Regions from separate parts of the Homo sapiens genome. Here region 1 is linked to region 2. Evidence: fine-mapped expression QTL. Tissue or cell type: subcutaneous fat. Region 2 holds a variant in brackets; the other region holds the start of a gene. All regions are shown on one strand. Distances are from middle to middle.

Region 1 (5,923 bases), 28 kb after region 2:
TGCACCCATTGTGGGTCTGTTCTTCCCAAGGAATCCCAGCCCTTGTGTTTCTGCATCACTAGATCCTCCATGAACATTCCCCAGAACCCACTTAGACTGCAGCAACCACAGGGGACGGGTGGGACCCTGGGGAGCTATGGAATTCCTAGAAGTCTAGCTCTTAGGAGAAGGGAGAGTGTCTGTGCCAACGTACTCCTTTGGATAAAAGAAACCAGTTCATTTGCTCTCCTCTGCCTAAGAGCTCCCCACGTGTGAGAAGAGGCTGGCTGTGCCCCTCCCAGCAGAGACACAGGCATGGTTCTGGGGTCTGAAGGGGAGGAGTGTGGTTCTGCACCAGTAGGCAGGTGACACTGGTGCCTGGGAATAAACATGGAAAGGGAGTCTTCTCCTACCCCCTCACTCAATGCTCCAGATAGACCGTTGGCTGTCCCTACTGGGAGCTGGCACAAGTGCACCTGGGGATGGCTTTTGAGGGCTCCTGGGGGCAGCTGCACTCCCATTGATGGGGTGCCTGCTGGCCAAGCCTTGCACGAAGGGCAGAGTTTATCCTCCTCCCCATATGGAGCAGCAGCATTCCCATAGCAGAATGCAGATGAATATCAGAGCTGCTGAGGGAAGAGGTTCTATCCCAAGGCCATTTTGGTGGTAGCCACAGGACGGGTGTTTTCTGCAGACCTCCATCACACTGCAGCCTGGAGATGAAGGACAATGTCTATCTGAACTGAAGGTCACAAGCTCCGGGACAAGGGTGTTTTAGGAAAGTGGATTGCCTTCCTGCCTTCCCAGGATGTGGAGCTGGTATACTCCTTCCCACTCTGGTGGAGACATCAGTGCCTTTCACCATGAGCTCCCATTTCCACTCCCATCAAGGCAGTTGCTTCTGCTCATAATTGGGGTTTCCCAGGGTGAGCTTGGTCGTTTAGTGCCCCTCAGTTTTGTGTCCCCCTCCAAAGCTTTGTGTTCCCTTCAGGGAATCAGGCCATCCACAGACCAGCCAACTGCCTGTGACAACAGAGATCCCCTCCCAGAAAACAAAGACCAAGTACCCATCAGCTTATGCCACAGCCAGCTTTTATTGGGATGCAGATTGAATTGCACAACCAAATAAAAAACAGGCTGACAGAGGGTATAGTGCTGGGGAATGAGATAAACTTTCAGAGACTTCCACATTCCCAGCCCCTCAGAAGGTAGTATTCCTGCTCATATGCCCAATACATTGCTACTACAATCAGCATAATAAAGCCACCACACAAAAGCTATCTATACAGCATAATAAAGCCACCACACAAAAGCTATCTATGACCAAGGAACTCATACAGAGCTGTGACCCACGGAAGGCACCCAAAATTGAAGCCAAATGATCACACACAACATACAGTCACACCTTCAAAGGGGGAAAAAATCCCATTCAAATGAGAGTAAGTTCAAAAGTAAGAAGTAACGGGTTCTCTAGATGAGAAGAAATCAGCATAAGCACTCTGGAAGTACGAAAAACCAGTATTTTGACATGCCCAAAGGATCACACCAGCTCCCTAGCAATGGATCCTAACCAATATAAAAATTTTGAAATAACAAATAAAGAATTTAAGATATGAGTTGTAAGGAAGCTCAATGAGATACAAGAGAAAGTTGAAAACTAACATAAGGAAATCAGAAAAATAATTCAGGATATTAATGAAAAATTTACAAAAGAGATAGAGATTAAAAAACAAAAACCAAATAGAACTTCTAGAAATAAAAATTTATTGAAGGAACTATAAAATATAGTTGAAACTTTTAGCAAAAGACTAGACCAAGCAGAAGAAATAATTTCAGAGCCTGAAGGCCAGTCATTTGAATTAACCTAGTCAGACAGAAATACAGAAAAAATAAATTTTTAAAAATGAACAAAGACTTTGAAAAATATAGAATTACATAAAGTTACCAAATATACAATATATAGACATTCCTGAGGGAGAAGAAAAAAAATTAAAAGCTTGGAAAACCTATTTGAGGGAATAATTCAGGAAAACTTCCCTGGTCTTGCTAGAGAATTAGACATCCAGATAGGAGATGCTCAGAGAACACCTGGAAGATGCTTTACAAGAGAAACCTCATAAAGGCATATCGTCATCAGACTATCCAAAGTCAATGTGAAGGAAAACATCCTAAAAGCAGCAAGAGAGAAATGTCTAATCTATACAGGAAAACCCAACAGACTAACAATGGACTTCTTAGCAGAAACCTTACAAGCCAGAAGAGATTGGGGTCTTATGTTTAATCTACTTAAACAAAAATCCTGCCAGCCAAGAATTTTGTATCCTGCTAAACTAAGCTGCATAAATGAAGGAGAAATAAAGTTTTTCCCATACAACAAATGCAAAGGGAATTTGTCACCACAAGACCAGCACTACAAGAAATGCTTAAAGTTCTAAACATGGAAATGAATGGACAATACTCCTCATCATAAAAGCACATTAAAGTGAAAAACTCACAGATTATATAAAGCAATTACATAATTGAGACTAAAAAGCAACTGGGTAACAATTATCATGACAGGAACAAAACATCACATATCAATATTAACCTTGATAATAAATGGAGTAAATGTTCCACTTAAAAGATACAGATTGGTGCTGGGTATGATGGCTTACACTTGTAATCTCAGAACTTCGGTAGGCTGAGGCAGGAGAATTGCTTGAGACCAGGAGTTTGAGACCAGCGTGGGCAACAGAGTGAGACCCCATCTCTGTAAAAAATTAAAAAGAGAAATTAGCCAGGTGTGATCATGCTCACCTGTAAAGAGGCTGAGGCAGGACAATCACTTGAGCCCAGGAGTTTGAGGCTGCAGTGAGCTATAAATGCATTATGGCACTCTAGCCTGGGTGACAGAGTGAGACTGTCTCAAAAAAAAAAAAAATACATACAGACTAAAAGATTGGATAAAAGTAGCATCAGCTCAGGGGTCCTAACTAGTTACAAGAACAGTGCACAAGACAAACACCAGCTAAGATGGCAGGGAGAACAAGCCTGAACAAGGCAAGGCAGAGGTCTGCTAAGGGAAATCCATCCCACAAAAGACAAGCAAGGCAGGGGCTCTCTGAGGCCTAGAGCAGCATGCAAAAGAGCAACTCTTTCCAGGTGGCAGCTCCCTAGCTGCTGCCCCCACATGCTGCTGCCTCTGCAGCCACTCTACCTGCCCCACCCCTGCCCAGGTATTCCAAGCAGCTCTCAGCTCTTTCCCAATATCTGGGCAGTGCTGTTGAGACAAAGGAAGAGGAGAAGTGGACACAGCAGGTCTTGGCTCTTAAGATCTGCAGTTGTGAGTTCCTTTTGCAATCGCTGTAGGTCATTGTGCAACCTGCTGGTCTCTGGACTCCTGATTTCTAGACATCTATAAAATACAGACACTGATGATGCCACTTAATTCACAGAGCTGCAGTGAGAAAGGTGCAGATGAGTTCAAGGCCTGATAGTGTTCTGCAAACTATAGTGATGGATGTGCATAGTATTGTGAATATCAGTGGCAGGTTTCCAGAACGCAGGTGGGGATAAGAGTGAGTGAGTCAATAAAGAAGAAAATTGCCCCACTTCTTGAAGGGAGTTTTTGGGGCTGGGCAGCTCAGGGTACAGGGCAGGCATAAATAGTGAGTGCCTGCCAAGCAAAGGCTAGTTTGCTTGGAGCTCCTGGGGCCTAACAAAAAGAAACCTGTAAGTGTCTCTGTTCTTGCCTTCTTTTTATTTTCTCCACATCCTATAAATATCCCTCTGCCGACCTGGGCAATTCAACCTATTGGTGTGGAGGGTCTGTGTAGCTGTTCTGGTCTAGGAGGCATGGGCGCAGGAGGTGGGGAGCACAGGAGGTCTTATGGTGCTCTTCTGCCCCTTATTCAGTGGCCTCAGCCCAGGGGAGGATTTGCTTTCTGAGCTGGGGGTGCACAGGGTGGAAGAGTGGGTGTGACACTATCTAGACCTGGGATGCCACAGTGTGGAAGCTTCAGGTGGAAAAATGCAATGCTAATTTATCTCTAGGCTCTTTTCTGCACTGATTTCTTCAGAAAGGACAGTGGAAGAGAGACAAACCCAGGCACTCACAGGCTGGGGTTCTAAACCCATCCTGGTGCCAACAGCCTGTGGAAAAGCAGGGCAAGCCTGTTTTTCTCATAGCTTCAGGTCTTTACTTTAAAAAATATACTTACTGGAGTAGGTCTCTGATTTTCCAATCCATGTTCAGAGGAGATGGCCTTTTCAATGAAATTGTACTCTGAAAGCTTAGCATAAACTGGGCACTGCAGGGGTTGAGGGGGACCACAACTCTGCCCACTCCATCTGCTGCCCCAGCTAAGATGCCTCATCTGAATCCTGGGCCTGAAAACCCGGGTCTGCCCTCTCCAAGTGTCCTTCAAGCCACAGTGGCTGCTGGTGCCTTCTGTGCCATCTTGAGCCTGTAGACAGAATGCCTATTGCCTTTCATTCTTCCCCAGAATCAGACACAGGGCCTGAGGGGTGAGGGAGCTGCGGGGCACAGAACAATGCCCTTGCTCTGGCCTGGGTCTGGCCCTTGCTGCTCATGATTGAGCCTCTGCCAGAACAGGTGTAACAAGGTAGCCGCTGCTGGCAGTGAGCTCACCCAGGTGTTTCTAGAGACTACCAGGATACCCAAGGAAGTGGTGATTTCAAAATTGAAAGAGGCTAGTGAGAAATAGGGGTCATCCACAGCCCAGAATCACCAGCAGTCAAAGAAGAAGGCACTCCTCTGGGCAGGAAGCCCCCCACTTGCCACCACCCCAGTTGGCCTGGTGACCCCTTTCTTTGCACAAGTCCCTCTGGCTTTGTTCCTAGCCTCTGCGAATCTGATCAGCTCTTTTCACTCTCATAACTTTACGGTTTCTCATTGAGAGAAAAGATACCCAAAACAGTTAATGTCCCAGGTCCTGCTCTTATCCTGGTCTCAGTTCCTGACCATCTTAGATAGTAAATGGGTGCCCTGTTGGGTAGTTGCTCTTGCTTACCCACAACACTAGCTTTCTGCCTGACTGAGCCTACCTGGCATGTCCTCTTTCCATATAAGACTTCTTTTTTTTTCTGAGATGGAGTCTCACTCTCTTGCCCAGGCTGGAGTGCAGTGGCACGATCTCGGCTCACTGCACCCTCCACCTCCCGGGTTCAAGAGATTCTCCTGCCTCAGCCTCCCGAGTAGCTGGGATTACAGCACGCACCACCACATCTGGCTAATTTTTTATACTTTTAGTAGAGATGGGGTTTTGCCATGTTGGCCAGGCTGGTCTCGAACTCCTGACTTCAAGTGATCTGCCCGCCTCGGCCTCCCAAAGTGCTGGGGTTACAGGCATGAGCGACCGTGCCCAGACTCCACATACTTCTTTTCCAAACCCTCTCAGGTCTTAGAAGAACTCTAGGTGTCTCAGGATTTCTCCTACTGCTAGTTTAGTGTCTCTGAAAACTTTCACCTGGGTTCCCTCTGGGACTTTTCTCTAGAGACAGCACCTGCTCGAGGAATGGCAAATTGCCAGGCAAATGTGCACCACACTCCCAGCCTGCGCTCAGGAAGGACATTACTAAGCACTCAGGACTCTGGCTGCATTTTCAGACCAGCACTATCAGCACCAGTGCTAGTCCATGCAAGGCAGCAAGAGAGAAGAAACAGGCTTGCCTTGTCTGAGCTAAGCCAGTTGCCTCAGTGGTACAGACAGGGAGATGGTCTAGGGAGTGGGCGGGGGGTGTCCTGCCCAGAGGCACTCAATGAACCCTTCTTGATGTGACAGATGGCCCCAGTGAGGAATGCTACATCCTAGCCACTGTGCCAAACTTAGTGCCCAAGGGAAGGCACAAGAAGGGAAGACATGAGCACCTGGGAATGGGGGATGCTGCTGTCAACCTATGTCAGAGTTCCAGCTGGGTAACTCATGCTCTCCATCCAGACCTT
Region 2 (6,351 bases):
CTGTCTTCAAGCTGACTAATTCTTTCTTCTGCTTGGTTAATTCTGCTGTTGAGAGACTCTAATGCATTCTTCAGTGTGTCAATTGAATTTTTCAGCTGCAGAATCTCTGCTCGATTCTTTTAAATTACTTCAATCTTTTTGTTAAATATATTTAACAGGATTCTGAATTCCCTCTCTGTATTACCTTGGATTTCATTGAGATTTCTTAAAACAGCTATTTTGAATTCTCTGTGTAAAAGGTCACATATCTCTCTAACTCTGGAGTTGGTCACTGATGCCTTATTTAGTTTGGTGAGGTCATGTTCTCCTTGGTGGTCTTGATGCTTGTGGATATTTGCCAGTGTCTGGGCATTAAAGAGTTAGGTATTTAATCTTTTCAGTGTGGGCTGGTTTGTACTTGTCCTTCTTGAGAAGGCTTTTCAAGTATTCAAAGGGAAATGAGCGTCGTAATCGAATTATTTGGTCACTGCAGCCAAATACACAATAGGGGGAACCCCAAACTCAGTAATGCTGTGACTCTTGCAGACCCATAAAAGTATCACCTTAGTGGTCTTGGGTGAAATCTGAGAGAAGTCCCTGGATTACCAGACAGTCTCTTGTTCTCTTCCCATACCTTCTCCCAAACAGACAAAGTCTTTCTCTCCATGCTGAGGTGCCTGGAGTTGAGGAAGGGGTGACACAAGCACTCCCATAGCCATCACTGCTGGGATTGTGCTGGGTCACACCTGAAGCCAGCACAGTACTGGGTCCCACCTAAGGCCTCTGGTGACAATTTCCTGGCTACCACTGATGTTTATTCAATGTTCAAGGGCTCTGTAGTCAGCAGGTGATGAATCCTGGCCAGGACTGAATTTTTCTCTTCAGTGCAGCAATTTACCTTCTGTCTCAGGGTGAGTCTATAAATGCCATCTCGGAGCTAGGGCCTGGGATTGGGGATTTTAGGAATCTGCTTGATGCTTTATTTTACCGAGACTGAGCTGGTACCCAAGTTACAAGACAAAGTCCTTTTTACTTTTCCCTTTCCTTTCCTCAAGCAGGAGTCCCTCCCTGTGGCCACCAGAGCTGGGAATGTGCTGGGTTGCACATGATGCCAGCAAGGTACTGAGTCTCATCCAAAATCCATGGTACTTACTGCCTGGTTACCACTGATGTTTATTCAGGGCCCAAGGGCTCTTTAGTTAGCAGGGGGTGAATTCTGCAAGGACTGGCTTCTTTCCTTGAGGGCAGTGGGTTTTCTTCAGGCCCAAGATGAGTCTAGAAATTTCATCTGGGAGCTATGGCTTAGAATTGGGGCTTCAGGACTCTGCTTGGTGCTTTATTTTACTGTGGCTGAGCTGGTATTCAAGTTGCAAGACAAAGTCCCCTTTACTCTTTTTTCTCCCACATTTGTGAGCTGCACTGCCTGGAGTTGGCGGGGAGGAGTGAGGCAAGCACTTTCTTGGCCACTCCAGGTGATATCTCACTGGGTCACCTACACCTCAAGCAAGTCCACTGGCTCTGAGCCCAGCTAGCATAGGGACTTGCCCAGGAATTTCAGTCCTTGTGTCTAGACTGCCTTTCAAGTTTATTTAGGATCCCAGAGTACTTCATCCCATGGTGGTGGGTCTATCCAGATTCTGACCCCTGGAATGGACAATTCCTCTTTGGCTAGGGCTGGTCTAAATGCTTCCTCTGTGAGTGCTGGCTGAACTGTGTCCTGTGTTGCTTTCTGCTGTGACAGCATTCCAATGCAAAGTTCCATAATCACTTTGCTCTCTCTCTCCCAAGTACACAGATCTCTCTCATACCACTTGATGCTGCCAGTGAATGGGGGTAGTGTAGGCAATTCAAGACTCTTTCCTTCCCTCTTCACTGCCTCTGTCCTTGATATGACGTTAAAACCATGTACTGTGATTGCTCACCTGATTTTTGGTTCTTATGAAGGTGTTTTTTTGTGCGGATAGTTGTCCAGGTTGGTGTTCCTGCAGGGCATGGGGAATGATCATTGGAGGGCTCTGGCCATCTTGCTCTGCTTCCTGATTCAATTTTTTATCAATGTTTTATTGTTTTTCAGTGTACAGATCATTCACCTGCTTGGTTAAATTTATTCCTAGATATTTTATTTATTTTTTATTTTCTGGTTTATGTTTTCTCATGATATTTTTAGATAGTTTAACATTTTGATGCTATTTAAGATTGTTTTCTTAATTTTTGTTTCTGATAGTTTGTTGATAGTATTTAAATTGCAACCGATTTTTGCACTTTGGTTTTGTATCCTGAAACTTTACCGAATTTATTTATTCTAACAGTTTTTTGGTGGAGTCTTTAGGGTTTAAATATAAGATAATGTAATCTGCAGACAGACAATTTTACTTCTTTCTTTCTTTCTTTCTTTCATTTGGGTGCCTTTTCTTTCTTTTTATTGCCTAATTGAGCTGGCTAGGATTTCCAGTATTTTGATAAATAGAAGTAACAAGAGTGTACATCCTTGTCTTGTTTCTAATCTTCAAGGAAAACATTTTAGAATTTCACCATTGAGAATGATGTTACCTGTAGATTTGTCATATAAGGCCTTTATTTTGTTGAGGTACATTCATTCTATACCTTTTTTTTTTTTTTTTTTTTTTTTTTGAGACAGGGTGTCACTCTGCTGCCCAGGCTAGAGTGCAGTGGCACAATCTTGACTCACTGCAGCCTCAACCTCCCAGGCACAAGTGATCCTCCCACCTCAGCCTCCCAAGTAGCTGAGACTACAGGCATGTGCCACCACACCTGGCTAATTTTTGTAATTTTTGTAGAGATGGGGTTTCATCATGTTGCCCATGCTGGTGTTGAACTCCTGAACTCAAGTGATCCACCCACGTTGGCCTCCCAAAGTGCTAGGATTACAGGCATGAGCCACTGCACCCAGCATATGCCTAATTTGTTGTGATGAATGTAATATCTCTTATGATGAAAGAATGTTTAATTTTATCAAATACTTTTTCTGCATCTATTGAGATGATCACATGGATATTTCCTTCACACTATTGTTGTGATGTATTACATTTGTTGATTTGCATGTGTTGAACCATCCTTGCACCCCTATGTTAGGTCCCATAGATTATACCAAACAGCATTGCATCTTGGACAGATGGTAACTAATCTACTGTAACTACAAATTATGGCAAAGCTATATCATCTGATAAAAACCAAAAGGCAAAAAATGGGACATCCTCCTTTTCACTTTAAAGAAAAGGTAAACAGACTGCAAGTGGTTAGGCTCACCTGTTCTTGAGTGCTACTGTCAGGGTAAGTCAAGAAATTCTTGAACTCAGACAAAGATTGCACTGCTTAATAAGCTGGGAGAAGGGTGGTGCTGGAGAACAGGTTAAATGAAAGATGTGAGGTATCATGCAAGATCTCTTTACTGAAAAATAAAACTTTCCTCAAAATTGAAGATAATGAAAGA[AAGAG/G]AGGAAGAAAGAAAGGTGGAAAAGAAAGGAAAAAAAAGAAGTAAATCTGAAGACCTACTTCATGTATAAATGGAAAAAAATCTGTAACAACTCCTTAGTAGGCTGTGGATATCACATCTGTGTTGTAAAGCAATGACTGGATGAAAATTGCTACATTTAAATAATTCCAGCTGGCAAGAGGGCTCTTTCACCACAGATACCTGAAAAACACAAGTTCCTTATATTACCATGAGGACAAGAAAAACTAGCCAGATTGATTTGTAAATGAGACTGATTACCTGTGAAACTAGATACATCAAATAGATTACAATGTTGCTTTGTGCATGTGTGAGCACTGTGTGTGTGTATGTGTGTGTTGTTGTTGTTTGTTTATGATTGAGTATCAGAAAAGCTGCTTGCTTGAACTAAATGAAACATTATGAGTATTAATAGAAGTAATGTCCTGTGGAACTCTAGGATTCTTCACAGCTAGTAGGTTGCTCTCTGGCCTCAGGTTTCAGCTGGGGCTTGTTTGTGAGCAGAGCACCAATACAGTGAGTCCTGTGGTTGGGAGGGATTCCACAGGGTAAAAAGATCTTGATTGAGGGTCACTAATTGCAGAGACTTTTGCTAAAGAATAAATCCTTGGCACCCAGCCAGGAACTAAGCTGAGTTTGGCTCCAGAGGTGAAATGGCCACGTCTCACACCTATAGTTTCTTCCCCACTGTATTAGTCTGTTTTCATGCTGCTGATAAAGACATATGCAAGACTGGGAAGAAAAAGAGGCTTAATTGGATTTACAGTTCCACGTGTCTGGGGAGGCCTCAGAATTATGGTGGGAGGAGAAAGGCACTTCTTACATGGCTGCCATCAAGAGAAAATGAGGAAGAAGGAAAAGCAGAAACCCTTGATAAATCCACCAGATCTCATGAGACTTATACACTATCATGAGAAAACCATGGGAAAGACCAGCCCTCATGATTCAATTACCTCCTCCTGGGTCCCTCCCACAACATGTGGGAATTCTGGGAGATACAATTCAACTTGAGATTTGGGTGGGGACACAGCCAAACCATATCACCCACTCTGAGAGGATGGTTGCCAGGCAGCACCCAATGACCCATGCCACTTGAACTAGAAGTGGCCTGCTAGTCCCATAACTTGGTTTTGAAGACTTCTTGTCCCCAGTTCTCAGAAGGGGGAGGTGGAAAGCTTCATTATGCTCTTGTTGAATCCTCAGGGTTTTTCCCTTTAGGTGCAGATGGCTTTACTGAGAAAAGCCCTTTTTTTCCAGCCTGGACTTGGACTCTGGCAGCAGTGGCAGTGGTGGTGCCATCACTCTTCTGGCACCAGACTTCCTTCAACAGCCATTTTATCACTCACCCTCCCAAACTCTGTGGTTTCCCAGAGCAGTAGATATGATTGACTCAGTAGCCAGGGACTTCTGGGAGCATGCAGATGTGTTTTTGCACAGGCTGTCAGGTGATGGGATAGGATCCACTGTGCAAGCCTGGATCTCAGGCTTCTTTGGGCTGGCTGACCAGGACCACAAAACCAGCTGAACTCCAGCTTTCAGCACCATTTATTGCCTTTGGCAATTCAAGTTTCCCCAAATCTTAAAGTCCTCATGCTACTGGAGTCACTCTTTCCTTTCAGAACCAAAGGCCATCACTTTGATTCTTTTGCCAAAAGAGAAACTTGTTTTTCTTAAGGCCACTGTATCCAGAACTCTTGTTTCACAAGGTATAGCCCACCACTTCTGTGTTGGGAACAGGCCCCCCAAAATCTGGCCATAAACTGGCCCCAAAACTGGCCATAAACAAAATCTCTGCAGCACTGTAACATGTTCATGATAACCATAACACCCACGCTGGAAGGTTGTGGGTTTACTGGAATGAGGGCAAGGAACACCTGGCCCACCCAGGGTGGAAAACCGCTTAAAGGCATTCTTAAGCCACAAACAATAGCATGAGCAATCTGTGCTTTAAGGGCATGTTCCTGCTGCAGATGACTAGCCAGACCCACCTCTTTATTTGGGCCCATGCCTTCCTTTCCCATAAAGGATACTTTTAGTTAATCGAATATCTATACAAACAATGCTAATGACTGGCTTGCTGTTAATAAATACGTGGTTAAATCTCTGTTCAGGGCTCTCAGCTCTGAAGGCTGTGAGACCCCTGATTTCCCACTTTACAATTCTGTTTCTGTGTGTGTGGGTTTAATTCCTCTAGTGCCGCTGGGTTAGGGTCTCCCCGACTGAGCTGGTCTCAGCAAGTGGTGTCCATCATGGGGACTCAAATCCAGGTCGAAGGGTCGCCGGAGCAACAGTTGGAGAATGTGGAACTAAGCTGGAGGACACCTGAGTACTCTTAAAGCAATCCCCGTGGTGAGTAAGAAGGGGAGCTTGGAAGCATCAGGGTAACAATGGGACAAGTGTGGGGTCTGGTTCATTCCACCTAGGAACTTTTTCACACTGATGAGGAGGAGGAAGGAGAGTATAACAAAGTAACAGAAGAGGTTACAGAGCAGTTTTATTTACCAGCTGAAGCTAAAGTGGCAAAGGAGGGAGAGGTTCATCCCTACCCTTCTGCACCCCCTCCTTATTATTTTGAAGAAAATGACCTTCCAGATCTTTCTTTTCCGGAGGACACTGGGCAAAAAGTAGTTGCCCCAGTGACTGTTCGAGCAGCACCTAGAGCGACTGCTCTTAGTTCTAGTCAGGCAGGAATTCAGCAAGCTAGATGAGAGAGTGATTTAGAGGCTTGGTGATTCCCTGTTGGAATACACCCCCCCAGATCAACAGGGAAATATTATAGCTACATTTGAGCCCTTTCCTTTTAAATTACTCAGAGTAGCCAGATCCACCCCTTTATTTCGGCCCATCCCTTTGTTTCCCATAAGGGATACTTTTAGTTAATCGAATGTCTATAGAAACAA

Which allele goes with the higher level. Positions count from the first base shown, and alleles are read on the strand shown. Sizes are in standard deviations (SD) of each study's normalised expression.
In carriers of allele AAGAG in region 2, the expression in subcutaneous fat of the gene that starts at base 3,651 in region 1 tends to be lower than with G alone (large effect, 1.2 SD a copy in FUSION).

Evidence for each region. PIP is the estimated chance that this variant, and not a neighbour inherited with it, causes the effect.
Region 1: SFTPD starts here. The variant in region 2 is fine-mapped to the expression of SFTPD in subcutaneous fat (FUSION, PIP 0.95).

Annotation. Positions count from the first base shown.
Region 1 is chr10:79,946,833-79,952,755 of GRCh38, reverse strand. SFTPD (surfactant protein D) reads left to right here and starts at 3,651. Exons shown (of 8, transcript NM_003019.5): 1 at 3,651-3,690.
Region 2 is chr10:79,974,911-79,981,261 of GRCh38, reverse strand. It overlaps a transcript of SFTPD not described here. Among named protein-coding and RNA genes, the nearest start is that of SFTPD, 29 kb to the right of the region's middle. The variant AAGAG/G (reference allele first, on the strand shown) is at 3,431.